Homo sapiens: one gene and its partners. The protein of the gene in region 7 interacts with the protein of the main gene of each other region in a biochemical or structural test. Each region holds a gene or a part of one and is shown on either strand. Other genes may lie near its edges. The genes, in order: NDN, CHD4, ESR1, KPNA6, KPNA1, PDK1 and EPAS1.

Region 1 (3,680 bases), on a different chromosome or scaffold from region 7:
AAAAGTAAGTTTCTTAATTTGCACAATCAGAATGATATTGCTTTCTCCAAAATATCATGAGAATTAGAAAAATAAAATTCCTAGCCTTTTTGTATGTGTGGCCCATGAACCCATGTGATTGTAGGCTCCCACATAAAATGTAAAAATAAATTTAAAAATAAATAACCTAAAAGCCACGGGGTATAGGGCAGTCGTAGGCAGGTGGAGACAAATGTGGGCTCTGGATTCATTCTGAGTTCAAGTCCTAGCTCCTTCTCTTATTAACCTTTATGAGCTATGGAAAGTTCATTACCTACATTATTCCTGTGTTTCCTCCATGGTGCAGAGGCAGTAGGTGCCTGCCTGACAGGCCTGTTGCAAGGATTAAAGGAGAAAAATACATGTTAGGGCTTAGCACAATGTCTCACTCTTTTATATTATAAATATGTTATATGTATATTAATAGATGTCACAAGACATCTATTAATTTTGATAAAATGTAGAAACTTAAGGGAAGGAAATTATTTTTGTTTTTTATTCCCATATGATGTGATTACAGACAATCTTACTGTTTTGTTTTGTATACTTTTCTATATTTGTGAATGTTTTTGAAATAAACATGAGTTACATTTAAAGACAATAGAACTATAAACTTCACAAATTTAGGAGTAATCATGAGTAGCGATTTTTCCCACCCTATTAGGGGAAATAGTTGTATCTGTATACACTGTAAAATAGAGAATTGTCTCATTCCCAACCATACTGCTTTGTTAAAATGATAAAGTACACTTTTCCAAAAATGATTGTATCACAAGAATCTTTAATGTTTACTTTAAAGTTGACTCACGGTGGGGTTGTATATGTGTTTAGTAAAGTGTGCCAAGTGCTCACACTGAGACCAGTCCAGTTCAAATTAGTGTACTCCACGAGGGTGTTTTCTGTGCCCAGCAAGGTCATGAAGGGCCTTGACTTTTCTTGGTTAGGCCGGCTTTGCTGGTGACTTCTTCCAAACTCTGCAGGAGCAGTCTACCCCAACACACATCATCAGTCCCATATAAAAGAATAAGATGGAAACTTTCTCAATGTATTTCATCAGTTTAGCACATCTCTGGTACAAAAATCCAAGAAAGGTAGCACAAAAGCGAAAGCACCAACCAAGCTTACATATAAACAAACATGCATACATCCTAAATACTACACAATAGTACCCAAATGAATACAACATTGCATTAAAGGTATAAAAGCACTGTACTGAAAACTTAAAAGTTACACGTGAATACTGCACTGTAAATCCTGAATACTATAATGACCCACCCCCACCCTTCCACAGCCCTGGTGAGGGTCAGAAACCATTCATCTGCCTCCAGACTTTGCTAGTCCTCAGAGACACTGCTGCGAGGGTAGTGGGCAGTGGGATTAGCCTCCCGCAGAGCTCTGGCCTCCTCCAGAGCTTCTCTGTATCGGGAGGGCCAGGCCTGGGGGTCTTTCTTAAAGACCCTGGCCAGGAACTCCATGATTTGCATCTTGGTGATTTCGCGGCTGGCCCGGGAGCCCCAAAAGAACTCGTATTCGGGCGGCTCCACGTATGGGACGCGCTGGTACTTCAGGTAATTCATTTGGACGAACTCCTCAGTGATGAGCTTCCGCACGTCCCCGAAGGTGGAGTGCTTCTTCCAGGGCCGCAGCCCCAGGATGCGCAGCACGTTCCAGACGGCGCTCTCTCTGGCGCCGCGGCCCTTCACGTAGATGAGGCTCAGGATCATGAGCAGGAGGCCTGTCATGGGCATGCGGTTGCTCAGCGCCACCCTGTCCAGCTCCTCGGGCTCCAGCGCTTTGACCAGCGCAAACTCCATGGTGTGCAGGCTGGTTAGCCTCAGGTGCAGCCCGAACACCCGGGCGAGGATGAGGCTGGTGCGCCGGAGGATGCTCCTGCACCACTTCTTGTAGCTGCCGATGACATCTTTCACCATGTCTGGAAACCAGATGATCATCTTCTTCTGGTCCTTGACCAGCACGTACCACATGAGCTCGTGCGCCTTCTGCACCAGCTGCGCCGGGGCTGGCGGTGCCGGGCCCGGCTGGGCCGCGCTCGGGGCCTGGTGGGCGCGGCCCTCCTCCGCAGCCTGCTGCAGGGCCTTCGGGTCGCCCTCGTCGTTCGGGGCCTGGGGAGGCGGCGCGGCCTGCGGAGCGGCCGTCGGGCCTAGAGGAGGGCTCTGCGGCTCTGCCAGGGTCGCGGACGGAGGAACCCCCTCCGAAACCCCAGGGCTGCTGTGCACCTCGGAGTTGGGGGCCTCGGCTGCAAAGTTAGGGTCGCTCAGATCCTTACTTTGTTCTGACATGTCTGCGCCGTCTGGCAAGGGCAGGGCCTCTGCGTCCAGGAGCTCTTCGAGCCTGCGCTCCCTCCGCGGATTCCTGGAGAGGAAGTGCGCGTTGCTGCGCGCGGCGCCTTCCGCAGCGACGGGCAGGGCGGGGCGGCGGCGGGACGCGGCACTGCGCCTGCGCGACCGCGGCCTTGGCCAGCGGCTGGGGGCGGGCGGGGCAGCGCGGGGCCCCGACGGGGAGGGTCCATGGCGAGGCTTCACCTGCTGGGAGAGCGATCCCGGGGTTTCCTGTTTGGGCTGAGAAGATCTAGGGCAGGAGAGAAGTGAGATGGATGCGTACTGGAGAAGGGGCCAGTTTAAGGGAAAGATACCTTAAGTTTTTGGGATGTTGGGGTCAAGTTTCTTGGGAAACGCTTACCTGGGTATATCCAGAATTAAGTTAAATATGAGAGTCCCAGAGAAAGGTCTGGGCGGCTTTGTAAACATGAGCTTTATGCGAACCAGTGAGAGGAACAGTCGGGCTTGTCCAAGAAAATGTGTAAACTGTAAAGTGGATGTCTGAGGTTGGAATCCTGAGAAATTCCAATAAAAAATGATCGACTCCCTACCAAATCAGATAGGCTATAAGAAAAGGGGAAATGCAGTGTGTCGTTAACGTAATTTCCTATCAACCCATGTGAACTATGAACTTTTTAAGTAGGCAGTGGACTTAGAGCATCATTAATGCTTTAACGGGCATAAATTTGGGTTTTACACTTCCTTTGGGTAACTTTGATTCCATTTTATTTTTTTCCATACTTAGTCCATAGCAGAAGGATTGCTATATCTTTTAGCACAAACTTGTATGATAATGTCTTTTCCCTCTGCCCAGCACCCTCATTCTTCAATTCACCTTCTCTCAGGACCCTCTCTGAAGCTACTGAGTCCTCCACGTTGGAAGCCACACCCAAGTCTTTCCTGAGATTTAAAAAAAAAATAGGTCCCATGGGTAATATCTGGTAGTGTCTCTGAGATGACCAAAGGGTAGCAGGGGAAACATAGGTAACCCTGTTTTCCAGGTATGGAAAACAGATTCCCAGTGGGCAAAGACAAAACTGTCACTCCTACAGGCTCTCCATGAAAAAAAGGGTCATTGCCTGAGCATCTGAAACCAGGGACCTTAATGCTGCTTCAGCATCCTTGGTCTGGGCTGATGTGGTCCTTCAGCTCTTCCCGGGTTTCTTCTCATCAGCAGCTTCTTAAATATGCTGTCTTGAATCTAGTTATTGCCACTCGAAGCCAAAAGCATATTTAAAAATTGTCTTGACATGTCTAGAGTCCTCACTGTGAGTATGTATCTTTTCCCACTTTATTTTTCCTCAAGCAGGTTGATGTTGAAAG
Region 2 (3,500 bases), on a different chromosome or scaffold from region 7:
TTCTAGTTTTGATCATTGTACTGCAGTTACGTAAGTTATTATTAAGAGAAGCTAGCTAGTTGAACAGTATACATGAACTCTCTCTGCTGTTTTGCAACTTTTTTCTAAGTCTAAAATTAAAATAAAAAGTTTTTTTTTTTTAAACAAGGAGTAGTGATACTGAGCACAGTGGCTTATGCCTATAATCTCAATACTTTGGGAGGCCAAGGCAGGAGGATTGCTTGAGCCCAGAACTTTGTGATCAGCCTGGGCAACATGGCAAGACCCCATCTCTACAAAAAAATTTTTTTAGTTAGCTAGGTACAGTGGATCAAGCCTACAGCCCCAGCTAGTTGGGAGGCTGAAGCAGCAGGATCACTTGAGCCTGGGGGTGTGTCCAGGCTGTAGTAAGCCATGATTGTGCCACTGCTCTCCAGCCTCGGCAACAGAGTGAGACCCTATCTCGAATAAACAAAACAAAACAGGCTGGGCGTGGTGGCTCGTGCCTGTAATCCCAGCACTTTGGGAGGCCGAGGTGGGCGGATCATGAGGTCAGGAGATCGAGACCATCTTGGCCAACATGGTGAAACCACATCTCTACTAAAAATACAAAAATTAGCTGGGCGTGGTGGCACACGCCTGTTGTCCCAGCTACTTGGGAGGCTGAGGCAGGAGAACTGCTTGAACCCGGGAGGCGGAGGTTGCAGTGAGCCAAGATCGTGCCGCTGCACTCCAGCCTGGGCGACAGAGCAAGACTCCATCTCAAAAAAAAAAAAAAAAAAAAAAAAAAAAACCTAGTAGCGTCTACTGAGGCAGACAAGTCTGCTAGTAACTTGCTATTTGAGCTTGAACAAGTCCTGACCCTTTGCTTGCCCTCGAGATACAATGCTTTCTTCTTTCTAGCAGAAAGAACAAATACCCCAAAAGAAAAAATCTCCTAGGAATAGTCCAATACATTCGTCCAATTGAGACATTCAAAAGCTTTACTCCATCTCAAATGACAAAGTCCCAAAAGAACTACACAGAAAAGGAGATGCACAAGAAGTTACAGTCCAAAGATATAAGCAAATGAGGATTCCTGAAACTAAACAACTCCTTCTCTCTCACCATTGAAGCGGTCAATGGCCTCTTGCCGCATGTTCCCAGTGATTCCACCATCGATGCGTTCGTATTTATAACCTTCATGTTCCAAGAAATCCTCTAGCAGGTCTAGCATCTTGGTCATCTGCAAAAGAAGCACGGTTTAATTATGGAAGAGTCAGATGGTAATCCCTTTCCTTAGGTCACTAAGGGTTGTCTATGACTGTTCCCTAAAGCTCCCAGTCCACATGATACCTGGGAAAAGATGAGTACACGATGCCCACCCTCCTTAAGGTTCTTGAGCATTTTCTGCAGCAGCAATAATTTCCCAGATGCTCTGATTAGGGCACTGCCATCATACATGCCATTAGGCATCTTAGGAGCTTCCTGAGAACAAATGCAAAGAAAAAAGTATTAAAAGAAAGCCCACATGGAGAAGACCCAACCCAGGGAGGAACAGGAGATGGCACTACATACCATTGCAGCCACAGGGAAGAGGTATGGATGGTTGCAGCACTTCTTAAGATCCATCACCACATTCAGCAGAGACACCTGGTTGCCACCACCTCGGGCATTGAGTGCTTCAAAATTTCGAGTGAGGATGTACTTGTAGTATTTCCTACATGGGCAAGGTAGAAAGACAGGTTAGACTTGAGAGCCTTTCAATGACTAATAATGCAGTGCCAACAACTGAGATCTTTCTTCCAACACATCCCACTTTGGAACTAAGGACACCTAACGCACAAGCACTACCACCACCACCATTTTAAATAAGGAAAGGTATAACCTAAAATAAGTAAGAACTATGCGCTCCAGCGCCCTAGCATCAGGTTTCTTCAGGCCTTGCTTGCTCCTGTCACCAGATGCCTTGAAGCTGAGTGGGGGAGGAATAGGAAACACTCTGCAGACTGGCAGATGTCTAAATGGAGTCTGCTTCTGTCCCTCCCAACTCACTTCTGCATAGGGCTCAGCTCCACACGCACAATTAGTTCTGTCTTGGAGGGCATGTTCTTGAACACATCGGCTTTGAGCCGCCGCAACATGTGCGGCCCCAGCATGTCATGCAGTTTTTTTATCTGGTCCTCCTTGGCAATGTCAGCAAACTCCTCCAAAAAACCTTCCAAATTGCTTCAGAAAGAAAAAGGAAAAAAGTTATTGGAGAAGGAGAAAGGAAGAAAGAAAAGTGATACAGGAAATGGGCAACAGGAAGAATGAGAGGCACAATTATGAGCCGATTACAGATAAACACATACTTACTGGAACCTCTCGGGGGTGAGAAAGTTGAGCAGATGAAACAACTCTTCCAGATTGTTTTGTAATGGTGTCCCAGTCAGCAACAGCTTGTGCTGGAGTGAGTAACCATTCAATACCCGGAAGAACTGGTGAAGCAGATGGAGAAAGGTGAAATCCAATGAAAACAGAGCTCTAGCAAATCTCTACAAAATTTCAAGTTTTTCACTGCCCAATAGTTAAGCATCCCACTCCTCACATTCTTTTTAAAGGCCTGGCCACCAAGGGCTGTCACATACAAGGAAGGAAGGCAGAGACAATTTTCCCCTCTCCTCTCCATCTACAAGTTTTCCCCTTAATGAATTGGTAGTACTAGAAAAAACCCAAAGTGGGGGCTCCAACATCCCTCCCTCAGCCCTCACCTTAGACTGATTGTTCTTCAGCCGATGGGCTTCATCCACGATGAGGCAGGCCCAATCAATAGAGCCCAAAATAGCCATGTCAATGGTGATCAATTCATAGGATGTCAGCAGCACATGGAATTTCACAGATGCCTCTTTCTGCACATGAAGGCAACTTGGTCACTACTAGTCAGTTCCTCTGTGTAAGCACAACCAGGAGACTGATGGAATGTTTTCCTCCTCCCAGGGTTACCCTTTTGCCTCACCAGGGACCAGATCACAAGGAGGTAAACTAAGCCAGAAGCCACAACTCTTTCTCTAGGGTGGCTTCCCTCCCCTGAGATACCTTCATGCGGGAGGCCTTCTTGCCACCACGAATGGCATTGTCTTCAAAGGAGAACTCATTCTCTCGGATGATGGCACGGCTGTCCTTGTCACCCACATAGGTTACGACATACATGTCTGGAGCCCACATTTCAAACTCCCGCTCCCAGTTGATGATGGTAGAAAGAGGGGCGCTCACTAGGAAGGGGCCTTTGGAATGACCCTTTGAGAAAAAAGAGGAGAGTCAGGACTGAGGGCCCCAGCACACTGCAACCCCAGCGAACACCCACCACCCTGCTGCCCCCTCAAGCTGAGCCAAGGACTGACACACCTGCGCTGCTGCTCCTGCTCTCACCTTCCTCTATACAAGTGCCCAGCCCACTCCTTTCCAAAAACCCAAGGTCCCACCATAACTACAAGTCTTACCTCTCCCATTAAGTCTTTATATACTTTTTTTCTGAGACGGAGTTTCACTCTTGTTGCCCA
Region 3 (3,500 bases), on a different chromosome or scaffold from region 7:
TTTTAAAAATGCCCTTTTAATTTACTATTAAAAGAATATTCCTAGCAGAAGTAGTCTTGGATGCTAAATTCTATTTTAAGAATAACTAAAATTAGAATTCTGTTCTTTTTATAACACCTGTTACACACACACCCCTACCTAGTGTGTCGGAATCAGTTTGTATGGGCTCACCAAAGCCTACTGTTCAATTTTCAGGAGTTTTGTAAGCCATTTGATGTCAGACAAGTGGCCTGAAGTTTGTTATGGTGGTGGTATTTACACCATGAAAATTGGCATGTTATGGTGGTAGTATTTACACCATGAAAACTGCTACAAATAGAAATCTTTTTCTTCTTCTCTTGGAGAGCCACTTGTTGAACACTTACCAGCTCACCTGTGCTTGAAAGTATTTCTTCAAATAAAATGAAAGCTGGTTAGCTTTGAAAATTTTTTGTATAAAAGTTTACACGGGAAAAAAATAAACTAATTTTTTTTTCCACCTGTGTTTTCAGGGATACGAAAAGACCGAAGAGGAGGGAGAATGTTGAAACACAAGCGCCAGAGAGATGATGGGGAGGGCAGGGGTGAAGTGGGGTCTGCTGGAGACATGAGAGCTGCCAACCTTTGGCCAAGCCCGCTCATGATCAAACGCTCTAAGAAGAACAGCCTGGCCTTGTCCCTGACGGCCGACCAGATGGTCAGTGCCTTGTTGGATGCTGAGCCCCCGATACTCTATTCCGAGTATGATCCTACCAGACCCTTCAGTGAAGCTTCGATGATGGGCTTACTGACCAACCTGGCAGACAGGGAGCTGGTTCACATGATCAACTGGGCGAAGAGGGTGCCAGGTAAGAATGCGAAGCGCAGCTTTTAAGAGTCAATAGCTTTTCAAGAACTTGTTGTGATGTCATGGGAGAAATAGTGGGGGAAAAAGAAGCAATAACATGTTATGTAATTGGTTTCAAGGTTACAGGAGATGTGTTCATTTTCAGTATCAATACACTGTAATTTTCCAGGAGATTAGGAAATAATATTTTTAAATCAGAATCTAGAAGACTGAAATTCTTAAATTGACATAATTTATTTTTAACCCATCTCATTTACCAAAAAGATTTAGGGTGGACACTACATGGTAAAACTATTTAATAGTGTATGTTCACAGTAGCAGAAACTTTTAACACTAAATGAACTACAAAAGTTTGTAATATTAATGACCTTTGTTGAAAACATCTCAATTATTAATCAAACGATTTTATCTTAAAAAGATTTTTAAGATTCGGTGTGGTGGCTCGTGCCTGTAATCCTAGCACTTTTTGGGGCTGAGGTGGGAGGATTGCTTGAGCCCAGGAGCTTGAGGCCATCCGGGGCAACGTGGCGAAACCCTGTCTCTACAACAAATTTTTAAAAATTAGCTGGATGCAGTGGCACACACCTGTGGTCCCAGTTATGGGGGAGGCCGAGGTGAGAGGATGGCTTGAGTCCAGGAGGTCAAAGCTACAGTGAACCATGTTTGTGTGGAGTGCCACTGCACTCCAGCCCAGGTGACAGAGCAAGACCGTGTCATAAAAAATAAACCACACAAAAAAAGAGAAAGATCTTTATGGATTAAAAAGATAATAATAAGTGTATTTACTGAATGCCAATTATTTATCCAACCTGGTGTATGCTTAGTGTTTTAGGAGAAAGAGAAAGGCAATGGAAAAATAAATTAAGGTATCATCCCTGAAAGAAACTTTTAGAAAGACACAGTGGCTGAAGTGATACCTTGTTCCTTCAGTTGATTCTCTCAGAACTGGTGTTCTGGTAAAATTGGACTGTTACTCCTGTTATTCAGGGAGAAGAACTCAAGTTTGTATGGCAACAAGACTAGAAAATGACTTTCTCCCTGCCCCAGTGTATTCGTTCAGGAGCTAATGTAGATAAACCGAGGCAAGAAGAAGCTAAATTTTTTTTCTGGGCTTATAGGTTAAATGAGTGATAGATTTAGTTGGAGGTTTTCTCATTTGGTTTCTTTTAATAGATGAAATTAATTGTTTCCTATGAAGCATGAAATGTTTTATATGAAACTAAAAAAATGTGGAGTTTGTACTTGCATTTCAAGGGTCACTGCTCTGTTATAGGCCAAGTGAACTTATGTCTGGCCTTAGAGAATCTTACATGTATTTGCATCTATCAGTATATAAACATGTGGGCCGTAGAATAAGGAGCCAGCAGTACCAGAACCCAGCCTTGTTAGAGGCCACCATTTTGGTGGTTGAGTGGTTATTAGTTTACATGGAAGCATGGAGAATAATAGGCAAATGTAGGTTTTCAGTGTCAGTCGAACTGGCAAACAAAAATTTCTGGTCATCTTCAGAATGAAAAGTTTTCTTGAGTACCTACATATTTTAGCATTTTCATATGAAGCAGATACATTATAAGTTAATTGTTGGAATCTAATTGTAATATGGCTGTAAGTTTTTTCTTTATATTTGTTATTGCCTTGTTCTTATATTATAGGGAAAGAGAAACAAACAAACAAGCAAAGAAACTAATGGTCATATATTTGAGAGCCAACTCTTGGTTGCTGTTCAGTTTTATTTTCCTGTAAACATATATTTTCCCTTATGAAATCTTGGGAATATTAGCTCTGGAGCACTGCTGAACTCAAGTACAGACATTTTCATGTGTATCAGTAGATTCCCATCATGACATTTTTATAATAATGTTGAAGAGCATTTTAAACAACTGGAATTAAGCTCAAATACATTACCAGTGGTTGAAGAATTCACATCAATAATCTTCTGAATTTAGGAATAAAATGGAGAAGTCAAGGAAAGGAAAATATTATACACAGGCTAGCAATAGTTAAAATACAATTATTAAAGCCAGAGCTAGACAAAATTATGGCAATGAGATGTGTAACAAAACCACTCTGTAACTTCATCATGTTCGTTTAAAAGACCTGAATGATTCCAAAATCCTTAGACCAATAAACTATGTCTTCTTACTTGATAATTAAAAAAAAGAATTATAAAGGCAAAAATGAAATTATATGTATGTGTGTTTGTGTGTGTTCCATGGGAATACAGCTGTTGTAAATCAAAGGCCTACTTGCCTGACCAAGCAGAATAAAAATAGTCATTGATTTTAAAGAGACTAAAAGTGAGGGAAGAAAAAAGTCTTCTGCAAAAGCTCTACAGATGGTTGTCAAACTTTTCAGAAAAATAGACAAAGCAACATTTTGAAAAGGATTTATATCTTTTATATATTCAAATACCATCTGTTATTTAAAAAACATAGCCCACACTGAATATCTGATATAGACAATATAACGTTTATGAGATAATAGTTTGAGAATGACAATAATAATAGTAAGTTTTAAAAGAGGAAATAAGCCGGGCACAGTGGCTCATGCCTGTAATCCCAGCACTTTGGGAGGCCGAGGCGGGTGGATCACCTGAGGTCAGGAGTTCAAGACCAGCCTGGCCAACATGACAAAACCCTGTCTCTACAAAACAGTACAAAAATTAGCCAGGCTT
Region 4 (3,500 bases), on a different chromosome or scaffold from region 7:
TCTTTTGTTCTTCCTATATAGGTGACAGGCTACTACAGAAGAACCCAGTTTTGGTTACACAGCTTCTTTGACCAATAGTACACACTGACTCCAATTTATTTATTTATTTATTTATTTTCTGAGACAGTCTTGCTCTGTCACCCAGGCTGGAGTGCAGTGGCGCGATCTCGGCTCACTGCAAGCTCCACCTACCAGGTTCACGCCATTCTCCTGCCTCAGCCTCCCGACTAGCTGTGACTACAGGCGCCTGCCACCACGCCCGGCTAATTTTTCTTTTTTTTTGTATTTTTAGAAGAGACATGGTTTCACCACGTTAGCCAGGATGGTCTTGATCTCCTGACCTTGTGATCCGCCCACCTCAGCCTCCCAAAGTGCTGGGATTACAAGCATGAGCCACCATGCCCAGCCCCTCTTTTTTTTTTTTTTTTTTTGAGACGGAGTCTCGCTCTGTTGCCCAGGCTGGAGTGCAGTGGCGTGATCTCAGCTCACTGCAACCTTTGCCTCTCGGGTTCAAGCAATTCTCCTGCCTCAGCCTCCCGAATAGCTGAGATTACAGGCGTCCGCCACCACACCCATCTAATTTTTGTATTTTTAGTACAGATGGGGTTTCACCATGTTGGCCAGGATGGTCTCAAACTCCTGACCTCATGATCTGCCCACCTCGGCCTCCCAAAGTGCTGGGACTACAGGCGTGAGCCACCGTGCCTGGCCAATTGACTCCTATTTTTAAAGGGAAACAAATTCTTTCTTCTGAAAGCAAATATTCCAACAACCTCCCAAGTTCCTATGACTTCCCATGCCCCTTGACTTCCCTGCCTGTTTTACCTGTATTTGAGCCCTGTTGCCAGCAGTAATATTTGAAATAGTCCAGCAAGCTTCCTTCCGGATTGACTCCTTGGGACTGCTCAACAAGTGGAGAAGGCAAGGTAGGGCTGAACAGTTAAGAATGACCTAGAACACCAAAAGCACAGGAAACAAAAGAAAAATTAAACTGTTTTTAATTTTTTTTATGTTTTTTTGTTGTTGTTGTTGTTGTTGTTGTTTTTGTTTTTTTTTTTGAGACAGAGTCTCGCTCTGACGCCCAGGCTGGAGTGCAATGGCACAATCTCGGCTCACTGCAACCTCCGCCTCCCAGGTTCAAGTGATTCTCCAGCCTCAGCCTCCCAAGACGCTTGGATTACAGACGCCTACCACCACGCCCGGAAAATTTTTCTATTTTTAGTAGAGATGGGGTTTCATCATGTTGGCCAGGCTGGTCTCATGCTCCTGACCTCAGGTGATCTGCCTGCCTCGGCCTCCCAAAGTGTTGGGATTACAGGTGTGAGCCACTGTGCCCGGCTTCATTTTTTTTCTTTAAATAGGGTCTCACTTTGTTGCCTAGGCTGGAGTGCAGTGGCATGATCATGGCTTACTGCAGCCTTGACCTCCCAGTCTCAAGCAATCCTTCTACTTCAGCCTCCTGAGTAGCTGGGGACTCCTGAGTAGCAGGGTGCCACCGCACTCTGCTAATTAAAAAACATTTTTTTTTTTTGTAGAGACAGGGTCTTCCCATGTTGCAGGGCTGGTCTCAAACTTCTGGGCTCAAGTGATCCTCCTGCCTCAGCCTCCCAAAGTGCTGGAATTACAGGCATGAGCCACTGCACCTGGCCCAGGTAAACTGGACTTAATCAAAATGAAAAACTGTTGTGCATCAAGACATTGGAGTAAGCTGGGCACAGTGGTATGCACCTGCAGTCCCAGCTACTCAGGAGGCTGAGGCAGTAGGATCACCTCAGCACAGGAGTTCAAGGCCAGCTGGGGCAACATAGTGAGACCCTCTAAAAAAAATTAAAAAAGAAAAGAAAGTTGGTCTGGGTGAGGTGGCTTCATGCCTGTAATCCCAGCACTTTGAGAAGCCAAGGTGGGAGGATTGCTTAAGCCCAGTAGTTCAAGAGTAGCCTGGGCAACATGGTAAAACCCTGTCTCTCCAAAAAAAAACAAATTCAAAAAATTAGCTAGGCATGATGGTGCATGCCTGTAGTCCCAGCTACTTGGGAGGCTGAGGTGGAAGGACTGCTTTGAGCTCAGGAGGCAGAGGTTGCAGTGAGCCGAGATGGCATCATTGCACTCTAGCCTGGGTGACAAAGACAGACTCTGTCTCAATTTTAAAAAATTAAATAAGTTAAAAGTTTTTTTTTTAAAGACACCAAAGTTAAAAGATAAAACCACAGAACAAGAGAAAATATTTGCAAAACATGTGTCTGATAAGAGATTAATATCCAGAACATATGAAGAACTCCTAAAATTGAACAACCAGAAAACTCAACAACCCAATTAAAACATGAGCAAAAGACTTGAATAGACATGTGTCCAAAAAAAAAAAAAAAATACACAGATGGCCAATAAGCATATGAAAAGATGCTCAACATTACCAATCATTAGAAAAATGCAAATCAAAACCACAATGAAATATCACTTCACACCCATTAGGGTGGGTATTATCAAAAAAAAAACAAAAAACAAAAAACGGAAAATAACAACTGTTGGCAAGGCTGTGGGGAAACTGGAACATGCTGCATTGTTGGTGGGAATGTAAGATGGCATAGCAGCTGTGCAGAACAGTATGGTGTCCCCTCAAAAAAATTAGGCATAAAATTAGAACATGATCCAGCAATTCCACTCTGGGTATATACCGGGGACTTGAACAAATATTTGTACACCAATGTTCATAGCAGCATTATTCACAATAGCCAAAAGGTGGAAACAACCCAAATGTCTATTGATGGATAAATAAAATATGGTATATACATACAGTGGAATATCATTCAGCCTTTCAAAGGAGTTCTGATGCATGCTACAACATGAACGAATTTTAAAGATACTAGGCTAAGTGAAATAAACCAGACGAGAAAGAATAAACACTGTATGATTCCACTTACATGAGGTACTTAGAGCACTCAAACTCACAGATACAGAAAATAGAATGGTGGTTACTAGGCACTAGGGGAAGGGAGAATGGGGAGTTACTGTTTAATGTGTACGGTTTCAGTTTGAGATGATAAAAAATTTCTGTAGCTGGCTAGTGGCAATAACGGAAAAACAATGTGAATGTACTTTATGCCAATGGTTAAAATGGTAAATTTTATGTTGTATTTTAAAGTACATGCATATACATATACAAAGTAACCCAGAAAATGAGCATGTGGGTTTGAGTGTTTGAGTGACACTACTCACCTGTTAAGAAACCTGTCCAGAATCCCACAGAATTATGCTCGCTACTCAAAACCCAAAGAATACCCAAATCTCTAGCCTTTGAGCAGGGGAACTTTGTTTACTATGCCTTCACCAGAAGGGTTATTTACAAAAGATTATTCCAAGGTCCATGATATCCATGAGACCTTAAAGATCTAGGAAGCAGGGGTGGAGTTCCATAGCTTTCAGTATCTCAAAGGGACCATGACTCAAACTTAACTAACTCACAATGTCCCAGGTGGTAAGTCCAGTTATTCCACTTAGTTTTC
Region 5 (3,500 bases), on a different chromosome or scaffold from region 7:
TTCTTTTTAAAAAAACTGTGTGTGTGTACACATATATATATATGTACACATATATAACCTATTTTTAAAATTACGTAATTACAATACTCTAGAAATCTAGATAGGTCTAATCCATACAAATAAAGCATGACTTTTATCTCTTCATGTTAACTTCAAAAAAGTAACAAAATGGTTTACAACAGAAAAATCCAAGAGTTCTGATGTGGAATCAAGTTTTTAAATCATACAAACAGGTCAATTTTGTAAATCAATAAAAAATCATTATTTTCTTTAAAGTATCTCTTATGGCTTGGTGTGATGGCTCAAGCTTGTAATTCTAGCACTTTGGGAGGCCAAGGCAAAAGGATCACTTGAGGCCAGGAGTTCACCTGGGCAACACAGTGAGATCCTGTCTCCACAAAAAATTTAAAAATTTGCCAGTCATGGTGGCACATGCCTGTAGTCCCAGCTATTTGGGAGGCTAAAGCAGGAGGATCACTTAAGCCCAGGAGTTCGAGGTTGCAGTGACCTACGATTGCGCCACTGCACTCCAACCTGGGCAACACAGCAAGACCCTGTCTCTAAAACATAAATAAATAAATAAATAAATAAATAAATAAATAAATAAATAAATAAGGTGTCTATTCTTATTCAACTTTTAAAGAGTAATTTTATCTTATAATTAGCTTGTTAAGTTTTTAGAGCAGAATTAATCTTTATAATTTAACTGCACTTTATCCAAAATATAATAAACATTTAATGAACCATGAGATTAAGCATATTCTTTTTAAAAATGAAATGCCAAGTACTTTTTGTAGCCATCTAACCTTTTTTAAAACTCAAAAGGAAATCTACATCTCATATCTTCATCACAAAAACACTGAAAAGAGTTCATTATCTTACTGGTGCCATCTCCATGTTACTAATCTGAGCCTCATGAAAGCCTCCATCTGACATAACTTCTTCTTCTGTTTCTTCTTCTGCTGTAGCAACATTTCTCCGCTTGAATAACTGAAAGATAAAAGATTGGTAGCAATGTAAATGTAAATTCTAACACAAGGGAGTTCAACATTCAAATACTAGGCACCCCATTCAAAGTGAAGTCTTTGAAAATCATTTTTAAAATTCTAAAGCTGTCAGCTTTTACTGATGAGTAACCATTTCAGATTTCTCCATAGTCTTATAATCAAATATAATTAACTATTACAACATGCTATAAACAACACTTGATAATGTAAAACTTACTAAGAGAGGTCTGACACTATATGACATTAAAAAAAAAAAGGTTGGAAAAAGGAGCTGGGTCATGCTTGGCCATTTTCCTCATCCCTTTATGTAAAGTATACATCAGGACAGTCCTAACAATGTACCAAGGAAAATGAAAATAAAAACTATGTTCAAATGACTTAATACTTCCCTCCTAATCTCCAAAGATGGTGGACTGTGGCTTCTGACCTTCCCAACCTATCCAGCAACCAGTGGCAACAAATGATGACTGCTTAAGCACTACCTTTAAAGCAGCTCCGTTAATGTGTATAGGCAAAGGAGACTAGTTCTCTCCAAAGTCAGCCAACGAGGGTGATTACCATTATATCCTTATGAATCCTGGGCAGCACATTTATTCATCAAGCCATGATGGAGTAACAGTAACTTACCCTCTCTCACGCTGAACAACTAAAAACAGACAAAATACATAAAATAATGTTTCAGCCATTGGACAATAAAAACCACAGAGTAGTGATATCTCAGAAAGAAAAACCCAAGATAAGCCCCAATACTGCCTCAGATTACTATGCAGACAGTTCCAGGCTGCAGTGCAGGAAAGGTAAACTCAACCAGAGTTTAGATGCTCCTTGGATTTGAGAAAACACAGTTCAGAGCTGAGAAGGCCAAGAGACCTAAAATTCATAACGCAGAGTACAACACAAAAAGAACACCCAAGATCTACAGGAGGTTCTCTCTGAGATTTAACTTAATACTAATCAGCACATAATCATATTCTTTCAGAAGACAGAAGCAGAGACAGTACTTCTCAACTCATTCTAGGAGATCAGCATTACTCTTAATACCAAAACCACCTACCAAAGGCCTATTTAACAGTAGTTTCTTTTACCCAGTACATGTCCAGCTATCAAGAAAAAATTACAAGGCATACTAAAATATAAAAAACACATTTTGAAGAGACAGAGCAAGTATCAGAACCAGATTCAGCCACGGCAGTGATGTTGAGATTATCGGACCAAGAATTTAAAACTACGATTAATATGCTAAGGGCTTTAAATGGATAAAGTGGACAGCATACAAGAACAGATAGGCAATGTAAGGAGAGAGATGGAAATTCTAAAAAAGAACTAAAAAGAAATGCAAGAGATCAACAACAACAGAAATGAAGAATGCCTTTGATCGACTTTTTAGTAAACAAGACACAGCTAAGGAAATAATCTCTGAGCTTAAGGAAATCTCATTCGAAATCTTTAAAACTGAAAAGAAAACAGAAAAAGGACTGACACAAATAGAACAGAGTATCTATGAACTGAAACAACTACAAATGGTATAATAAACATGGAATGGAACTATCAGGAGGAGAGGAAAGAACAAAAGAAATATTTGACACAATAATGACTGAGAATTTCCCCCAAATTAGTATCAGACACCAAACTGTAGCAGGCCATGTCTCATTAATGCAGGGCTCCATAACAACTGTTTCAGTACTGACTGACTGGTTAAGTTAAATATTAAAAGCTAAAAAAAGCCAGTGCCCTTATACAAAGGCTGGAATCTAACAAAAGCCCACCAAGAGTTTTGCCTAGGCCTTTCCTGGGCCTTAAAGCATAACAAAGAAATTCCCCAGGCCTCCACAAACAAGTTTATTGGATGTCTGAAAGAACTCCCCAAACCTCCACGAGCAGGAGACAAGATAAGGGTAATCACCTCAGCACCTAGATTAAGTAAATTTACTGAGACTCCAGAGGAAGGTCTTCAAGACTCAGACCTTAGTTACAGATTAAAAGAAGTTTCATCACTTATGTCTTTAGATGAATACACACTTACACGCAGACATATAGCTTAAAAGGTATATAATATCTGGAAAACTTTGTAATTTCGAGTTGGTCTGGCAATAATTTCTAGGCCTTCTCCCTGTAACCAGGTACAAAAATAAAAACTCTCTTCCTCCCCAGTTCATCTGCATCTTGTTATTGGGCCATGAGAAACAGCAGCCCAACCCAGTTTGGTCTGGGAACAAAACCACTGGAAGCCCAGAGAACACCAAGCTGGACAAAGGCCAAAAAAATCCCACTACACCTAGGGATATCATTTTCAAACAACAGAAAATCAGAAATAAAGGAAAAACAATCCTAAAAGACAAGGGTAAAAACACTGTACTTAACACATGAATAAAGATAAGAATGATAACCACACATGCCAGAAGAAAGTGAAGTGAAATATTTGAAGTGTTGAGAGAGAAAACCACCAACCTAGAAACTCTGAACCTTGCAAAATCATCCTTCAAAAGTGGAAAC
Region 6 (3,500 bases), about 130 Mb from region 7:
TTATCAGATTGAAAGCCACCCCCTCTTTCCTCTAGTTTGCTGCTGGCTGATGAAACACAACTGAAGAGAGACTACAAGCTTCTGATAGAGGGCAATCATTTTCACCCACCAGGACCTGTGCCCCTCACTCCTCACCCATTTTCTTGTCAACCAGCAAGTATTATTGGCGGGGAAAAAAGATACTCTCAATATTAGTAGCATAATTTGTTTTCAAATTTTGTTGTAAAGAGCAAAGATTACAGCAGAAACCCTGTAAGTCAATATAAATGACCTCCCCCTCCCAAGAAAAGCCAGACCAAAAAAAGAATTCTGGTCCTTTGAGGGTAGCAAGTTGAGAATCACTCTTCTAAATATTGTTTTATAAAAACATAAAGATAACTCTATTGAGCACCTATATGTAATACGTTGCCACTGTACTGGACACTTAGTATGTTATTCCCAATAGTCATAAACAATCCTGGACAGTATTCTTGTTTTACAGAAAAGGAAACTGAGGCTCAGAGAGGTTGAGTGACTTGCCCAAGGTCACACACATATTAAGAGCCATAATTGGGATTCAAACCCAGGTCTTTCTGACTCCATAGTCTGAGCTCACCACTACATGGAGATGTCTCCCTGTGTTGATAAAAAGCTGATCTCCAGCAATGTGATATGATACTGATGTGAAATGGCACTTCTTAATAGGAGAACCTAGTGGAATATTTGGCTTTCAGAGCAGATTCCTAACCTCAGAAAAGTACTGGTAAAGGTTATGTAATACTATTTTACAAACCTTGAAAAGTTCAAACACCATGTGATAGAGATGGGATGGTACATAAACCACTTGTATTGGCTGTCCTGGTGATTTTGCTACAGAGCAGAAGAGAAAAATATGAAAGTACAGAGAGATGTGCTTAAAGCATTTTTAAGAATAAACTGTGTAGTGATGAAAAGAAAACATTAACTACGGAGGACAGTATTACCTGGGGGAGAACTGCCACACCATTTCTTCAATGTATTAGTGTTTGAACCCATACCCACAAATATTTACAACTGATGATGACAAGAGTCCTGTGGTCACTTCTCACAATCTTGCATCACAATCGAACCAACCCATGCGCCCATTTTTCTCTAGGATGGTAAAGTCTTTTTTAAGATCGCTTAACTTTCGGGTAGGAATTTTACTTTCCAAATAGAGAAGTGTTAAAATCTTTAAATTCCACAGTCCAATTCACATGCATGCATACATTCTTCTTCTTCTTTTTTTTTTTTTTTTTTTTTTTGAGACGGAGTCTTGCTCTGTTGCCCAGACTGGAGTGCAGTGGCGCGATCTTGGCTCACTGCAACCTCCACTTCCCAGGTTCAAGCAATTCTCCTGCCTCAGCCTCCCGAGTAGCTGGGATTACAGGCGCCAACCACCACGCCTGGCTGATTTTTCTTTTAGTAGAGACGGGTTTCACCATATTGGCCAGGCTTGTCTCGAACTCCTGACCTTGTGAGCCACCCGCCTCGGCCTCCCAAAGTGCTGGGATTATAGATGTGAGCCACTGCGCCCAGCCCATACATTCTTTAAGCCATTTTCAAAATGTTTCACCTGGGTGGAATATTGTTTTATTTCAGGCATTTCGATGGATATAAAGCTGAATAAAAAATATGAGCTAGCATCAATTTCTCGAGACAGTAATTAATTCTACATTTAAACACTTAATAGGAGCCCCACTGGGGGTGGTGATAGGGGTGTGTATAAAACAGACATTTAGTAGAACAAATGATTAAGACTCATGATATCTTAGAATTCTAATTCAACCAATAAATCAGACCTTCCTCTGAATAAACTCCCCCTTGGGAACAAAAATGGGACATCTGGAAATTGCTCACAGCAGTTCAGGTTTGCAAACTATCACTTACTTGTACACTGTGATTGTTATTTACCAAATGCTATGCTACCATCATGGCTCAAAAGAGTTAATATGGCTTTAGAAAATCACCAAGCAATGCTATTTTCAATTGCATAACTTCACTGCTCTCTCACTCTAAGGTCCAGAATACAGCTTAGTAAAAGCCTATTTTGTTTTATTCTTCCCACACCTTCTTAAAGTGTCATCTTAGGAAATGCTTTTTTCTGTCAAACTACCATGCTTTCAGGAAAAAGAGACTCATCAATCCCTCTTCAAGGCATCTAAACCCTTTTTGTCCAAAAGGCACTAATCAGGGTAAAAAGAAAACCATCAGAGACAAACAGATTCTCAAATAGATGAGCATCTTTCTTTCCTCTTTTATAACCCCAGTCTATGTCCTCAACAACAGAAAATTATTTACAACTCAGGAAGTAGAAAAAGGGTAAGTCTTACATTAGTGAAGTGCATGTAAAAGTCAAATGTAACTTTCTTGGTATCATTTTCTTTCTATGACTAAACAGAAAATAAAAAATAAGCAAAGAATCAAAGTTATCAATTAAAAATAAAGAAAATGTGATACAAAAAGCCAAATCTTTTCATAAAGAATCTGACTAAATTACATATGTTTATAGATATATTTTTTACATGATTACTATCCTTTAGCCTTCATATCCAACGAAGTTGATAAAAAGTCATCTTCCATTAAAACATTTAAATTCTTATCCCTTATCAAGTAATCAAAGCACTAATTATTGAGAAAAAGACAACATCAGGCTTACCATTTAGTTCTTCAAGTTCTAGTTCGGGAGAGTTAATATAATACAAATCACACAGACGCCTAGCATTTTCATAGCCATCTAGTGTGAATCAAAACAAAACAAAAAAGGATTTAATAAATATACTTCTCTTTCACGCATTAAGATGGCAATGGTATTGACAAATCAAAGTCTTGAACTCTCTACAGAAGAAAATATACTTTGATAGTTTGGTGAAAGTCTGCTTTTTTTTTTTTTTTTTTTGGTAGAGACATGGTCTCCCTATATTGCTCAGGTTTGTCTCCAACTCCCAGGCTCAAGCCATCCTCCTGCCTTGGTGCTAGGATTACAGGCATGAACCACTGCCCCCAACCAGGGAAAGCCTTTCCTTTTTTTTTTTCCTTTGAGACGGAGTCTCGATCAACCAGGCTGGAGTGCAGTGGCGCTATCTCGGCTCACTGCAGCCTCCACCTCCCTGGTTCAAGCGATTCTCCTGCCTCAGCCTCCCAAGTAGCTGGGACTACGTAGGCATGGGTCACCACGCCCAGCTAATTTTTGTATTTTCAGTACAGAGGGGGTTTCACCATGTTGGCCAGGCTGGTCTCGAACTCCTGACCTCAGGTGATCCACCCGCTTCAGCCTTCCAAAGTGCTGGGATTATAGGCATGAGCCACTGTGCCTGGCCCAGGGAAAGTCTAAGTGTGACATGACAAAGCTGAATAGCCATAAACAATGAATGACAAATATAACTACAAAAAAAATGTAAAAGTCTATATGCTAAAAAGACACCAACAATGTAAAAAAGAAAAATAACAGGCTGGAGAAAATAATTGCTATCTATGTAACAAAACTTAAGAGTTGGTTAGGA
Region 7 (3,500 bases):
TCACTCTGCTCCTTCAGTGGTGTCTGTCCCACGGCCTGCTGCATGCCCGGGGAACGTGTCTGCCTCCAGAACCACTGCCTCAGGTGGGGTGCTGAGACCCAAGAAAGAGGAAAGCGTGAGGTGCGGGCTGCAGCACAGGTATGTGGAAGCTTCAGGAAGAGCCTGGGGTTGCTGACCCCCATGCCTCCTGGCAGCAGGGAGGAAAGGCTGAACCACCTGGCACCTATGCTCACATACACAGAACATGCAGAACACACACATACATACAGATGCAAACACAGACTGCCTCAAGATTCAACAGTCTGAAAATCCAGTTTCTGGTCACCACCCTCAGCAGTCCTTTCTTCTTGCCTCTGTGCTATTCTCTTGCCGAGGAGGCAGACCAGGGAGTGGCAGGGGGGACACTCGCAGCACACACACAGGCCCCCATCCCAAGGAGGAAAGGCTTAGGTGGCAGCAGAGAGCCTGGAAGCCCTGCATTCTGCCCCTCCGATGGGAGATGCCCACCCACCTTCCCTTATCTGCAGAGCCTCGTTCCAGTGGCCATTGCCTCCTGCACCTCCTAGCTCAGATCCTTGCTGGGGTCCATGCCTGCCTCCCCAGCTTGACTGCTCCTGTGGACAGTATCAATGGATACCTGCTCACCATCCCTTGCTAACTTCTCTTATTCATGGTCAGAAAAGAGTTTGATATGATTCAACTCTTTTGAAAAGAATATGATTTTCCCTTGATTTCAATATTCAAGGTAATTCGTGGGCTTCACATAACAGGAAGAATAGTGCTGGCTACCTCTTACTGCACATAAATATATACCAGCCCCTGAACTCAACAGCAGAGCCAGAATTTAAGCCAGGGCTGTCTGGTGTTTCTACAGCCTGGACTCTGAAGCACAGAACTATAACCTTCCCCAAACTCTATTGCTGAGGAAATTGCCTTTTAGAACAGGGGCCTGGTATGTTTTTCCATAAACCACGAATTATTTTCAGGCCAAACAAACCTCATGAAGACATATATGTTTCACAAGATACTGTCAAGATGAAGGTGGCCCAGGGTTGAAGGCAGGCATTGGTGCCTGCAGTTGAACCAAGTCCAGTGGGGTGGGCCTACCAGAGCTTTCCAGGCTGTTCTACCTGAAGGAAGTTTTGGCATGTTCTCAGCACCTGCCTGAACTCAGAGTGACACCCCAAAACACATCCACATGAAGAACTGAGGAAGGGGCAAGGCTCCGGGATTCTCAGGGTGGAAAGAGCCCTGGATGGCACCTGATCATGGGAGGGTTCTCCCTAAAGCCCCAGGGAAGGAGCACTCCCTTCTCCACGCAGCAAGCTCATCCTTGCATAGACGGGAGATCCCCTGCCTCTGCCCAGACCGCTTCCCAACTCTCTCTCTCTGAACTTTCTCTTCTCTTCTTCAACAGGCCCTCACCACTGTGGCCGCCTGCTCTTTCTTCTGAAAGTGCTCCTGTCAACAGTGGTACAGTGTTCTGGGGGTCGCCAACCCAGTGTTCAGTGTTCAGTCCTCTTTGGGCAGTCGGTAGTGGTCTGCATTCTTTCCTTCAGTATTCTAGCCTGAGTTTGAGTTTTTTAGCTGTGTCTCAGACCCACCCACTGGGGGGCCTGATCACTGATGTCACAAGGAACTTGTGAGGAGGTTCCCTAAATCCAAGGAGACCTGAGCCCTGTATAGGTGACTTCAAGTCAAGCACCTCCCTGTGCCTGGCACTGTGCAGACGCTGGAAAAAAAGTAGACGTGGGCTTCCCCTGGCATCGAATCCTGGGATGGGGGTGACAGATCCTGGGCACACCCACCTGACACCTTGTGGGCTGACGACAGGCTGTAGTCCTGGTACTGGGTGGCGTAGCACTGTGGGGGGAACCTGCTCTTGCTGTTCTCCCCGGGACTGATGGCAGATGGAGGCTGTGGCAGCGGCAGATGTCTCAGGGGATGGCCCAGGCCCCTCATGGGGTTTTGGGTGAACTTATCTGAAAGACCAAAGTCAGAGAGTGACGGTAGCATTGGCCTGAGGGAGGGGAGAGGCCAGGAAGCCCTAGCATCCCTTTCCTTTATAAAAGGTGCTCAGAGTCACCAGAACTACAGCCAACCTTCAGGACCCTCTGATGGCATCATCTAAGTCAGAGTGGAGATGGAAAAGTTGGGTGTGTGGGACTGCGGGAGAGACAGAGGACATCGCCCCATTCTAACAAGGCTCAGAGAGGCAGGTACGGCCTGTGGTGAATGGAAGAACCAGGATGGGCTCCCGAGCCCCAGTCCTTCCACCAGAACCCCCAGGAGGCCCAGGCCTGTGGCCGCTGCTCACCATTGGGTACATTTGCGCTCAGTGGCTTGTCCGGCATCAAAGGGCAGCTCCCACCCCTGAGGTTCTTCATCCGTTTCCACATCAAATGTGAGGTGCTGCCACCAGGTGGGTCCCCCTGGGAGTAAGAAGGGCAGATGGAAAGGGGAAATGGCCAGAGAACCAGGTCCCCAGACTGGGTGGGTTGGGTGGGCCTGGAACAGGGCTGGCACTTGCTGGCTTGGAAGGGCCACATCCCCACCCCTCTCAGCAGCCCTGGGTTCCCTAAGGGCTATGCTGGCTTGGAAGGGCCACATCCCCACCCCTCTCAGCAGCCCTGGGTTCCCTAAGGGCTATGGAGAGGCCCCTGTGGCCAGTGGGGATGACTCACCCCGCTCAGGTCCTGGAAGGCTTGCTCTTCATACTCCAGCTGTCGCTTCAGCTTCAGCTTGTTGGAGAGGGCTACCATGGCCGGACTCAGCACGTCTGGGCCTCGAGCCCCAAAACCCTTTGCAGACCTGCCAAGCCCGAGAGAGCAGGCTATGAGGGAGTCTGGAGCCACATGCCACTCAGTGCCTTCTCATCTTAGGGGCCCTTCCAGTCCCAATGCTGATGCCTGTGATGACTCAAAGACCCAAAAGGCAGAGTCTCAGAGGCAGGCTGTGCACCTGCAGGCCGAGCTCGAGCTCTGTCTCCTTCCTCAGCTATAAGATGCTGAAGGGCTCAAGCCTCCTGGTCTGGGGGATGGCTGCCTGGCTGGGCAATGTTAGTCCTTAGGAGGGTTTCTTCTGCCCATGTCTCTCCTCTGCCTTTTGCTCCCACTGAAAACTAGTTTGGCTGCTCTATAAAGGGCAAGTACCAGCGGCCCCTGGGAGTGGCAGGTCATGTACCAACCCCTGTGCCTTAGCCCAGTGAGCTCGCAGCTGGTGAAATGAGCATGCTGGGGAGATGGGAAGGCATTTCTGGAGCCTAGGCACAGCTGGGAGAGGCTGCAGTGGCGAGGACCCGGGGGCAGCCAAAAGGCAAGGGGAGGCAGGGGTATCTTTTTGCTGTTTTCAACCAGGGAAAATCATCACTCAATTTTCTGTGTGGCTCAGATGATGAACCGAGATACGAAAGGCACTCTGGTGGTGGTCCGAAGGGAGACACTGAGGTACAGGGCTCTCAACAAGCCACTTCTTTGCCTGCCCTCAGTGGCAGCCCAGAT

Evidence for each region.
Region 1: the proteins of EPAS1 (region 7) and NDN form a complex in vitro, tested with the Homo sapiens proteins (one study listed by BioGRID).
Region 2: the proteins of EPAS1 (region 7) and CHD4 form a complex in vitro, tested with the Homo sapiens proteins (one study listed by BioGRID).
Region 3: the proteins of EPAS1 (region 7) and ESR1 form a complex in vitro, tested with the Homo sapiens proteins (one study listed by BioGRID).
Region 4: the proteins of EPAS1 (region 7) and KPNA6 form a complex in vitro, tested with the Homo sapiens proteins (one study listed by BioGRID).
Region 5: the proteins of EPAS1 (region 7) and KPNA1 form a complex in vitro, tested with the Homo sapiens proteins (one study listed by BioGRID).
Region 6: of the proteins of EPAS1 (region 7) and PDK1, one has a biochemical effect on the other in vitro, tested with the Homo sapiens proteins (one study listed by IntAct).

What each region holds. Positions count from the first base shown.
Region 1 is NC_000015.10:23,684,900-23,688,579, forward strand, and holds NDN (necdin), read right to left. Parts: upstream 2,407-3,680; 5' UTR 2,319-2,406; coding exon 1,353-2,318; 3' UTR 501-1,352; downstream 1-500. UniProt on the Homo sapiens protein: Growth suppressor that facilitates the entry of the cell into cell cycle arrest.
Region 2 is NC_000012.12:6,590,380-6,593,879, forward strand, and holds part of CHD4 (chromodomain-helicase-DNA-binding protein 4), read right to left. Parts: intron 3,238-3,500; coding exon 3,037-3,237; intron 2,850-3,036; coding exon 2,712-2,849; intron 2,439-2,711; coding exon 2,317-2,438; intron 2,188-2,316; coding exon 2,014-2,187; intron 1,679-2,013; coding exon 1,537-1,678; intron 1,447-1,536; coding exon 1,315-1,446; intron 1,205-1,314; coding exon 1,087-1,204; intron 1-1,086. UniProt on the Homo sapiens protein: ATP-dependent chromatin-remodeling factor that binds and distorts nucleosomal DNA. Acts as a component of the histone deacetylase NuRD complex which participates in the remodeling of chromatin.
Region 3 is NC_000006.12:151,943,682-151,947,181, forward strand, and holds part of ESR1 (estrogen receptor), read left to right. Parts: intron 1-491; coding exon 492-827; intron 828-3,500.
Region 4 is NC_000001.11:32,163,556-32,167,055, reverse strand, and holds part of KPNA6 (importin subunit alpha-7), read right to left. Parts: intron 952-3,500; coding exon 826-951; intron 1-825. UniProt on the Homo sapiens protein: Functions in nuclear protein import as an adapter protein for nuclear receptor KPNB1. Binds specifically and directly to substrates containing either a simple or bipartite NLS motif.
Region 5 is NC_000003.12:122,466,440-122,469,939, forward strand, and holds part of KPNA1 (importin subunit alpha-5), read right to left. Parts: intron 991-3,500; coding exon 883-990; intron 1-882. UniProt on the Homo sapiens protein: Functions in nuclear protein import as an adapter protein for nuclear receptor KPNB1. Binds specifically and directly to substrates containing either a simple or bipartite NLS motif.
Region 6 is NC_000002.12:172,566,090-172,569,589, reverse strand, and holds part of PDK1 ([Pyruvate dehydrogenase (acetyl-transferring)] kinase isozyme 1, mitochondrial isoform 2 precursor), read right to left. Parts: intron 2,735-3,500; coding exon 2,657-2,734; intron 2,391-2,656; coding exon of another isoform or gene 2,374-2,390; exon of another isoform or gene 1,568-2,373; intron 850-1,567; coding exon 773-849; intron 1-772. UniProt on the Homo sapiens protein: Kinase that plays a key role in regulation of glucose and fatty acid metabolism and homeostasis via phosphorylation of the pyruvate dehydrogenase subunits PDHA1 and PDHA2.
Region 7 is NC_000002.12:46,380,907-46,384,406, reverse strand, and holds part of EPAS1 (endothelial PAS domain-containing protein 1), read right to left. Parts: intron 2,812-3,500; coding exon 2,685-2,811; intron 2,433-2,684; coding exon 2,318-2,432; intron 1,983-2,317; coding exon 1,809-1,982; intron 1-1,808.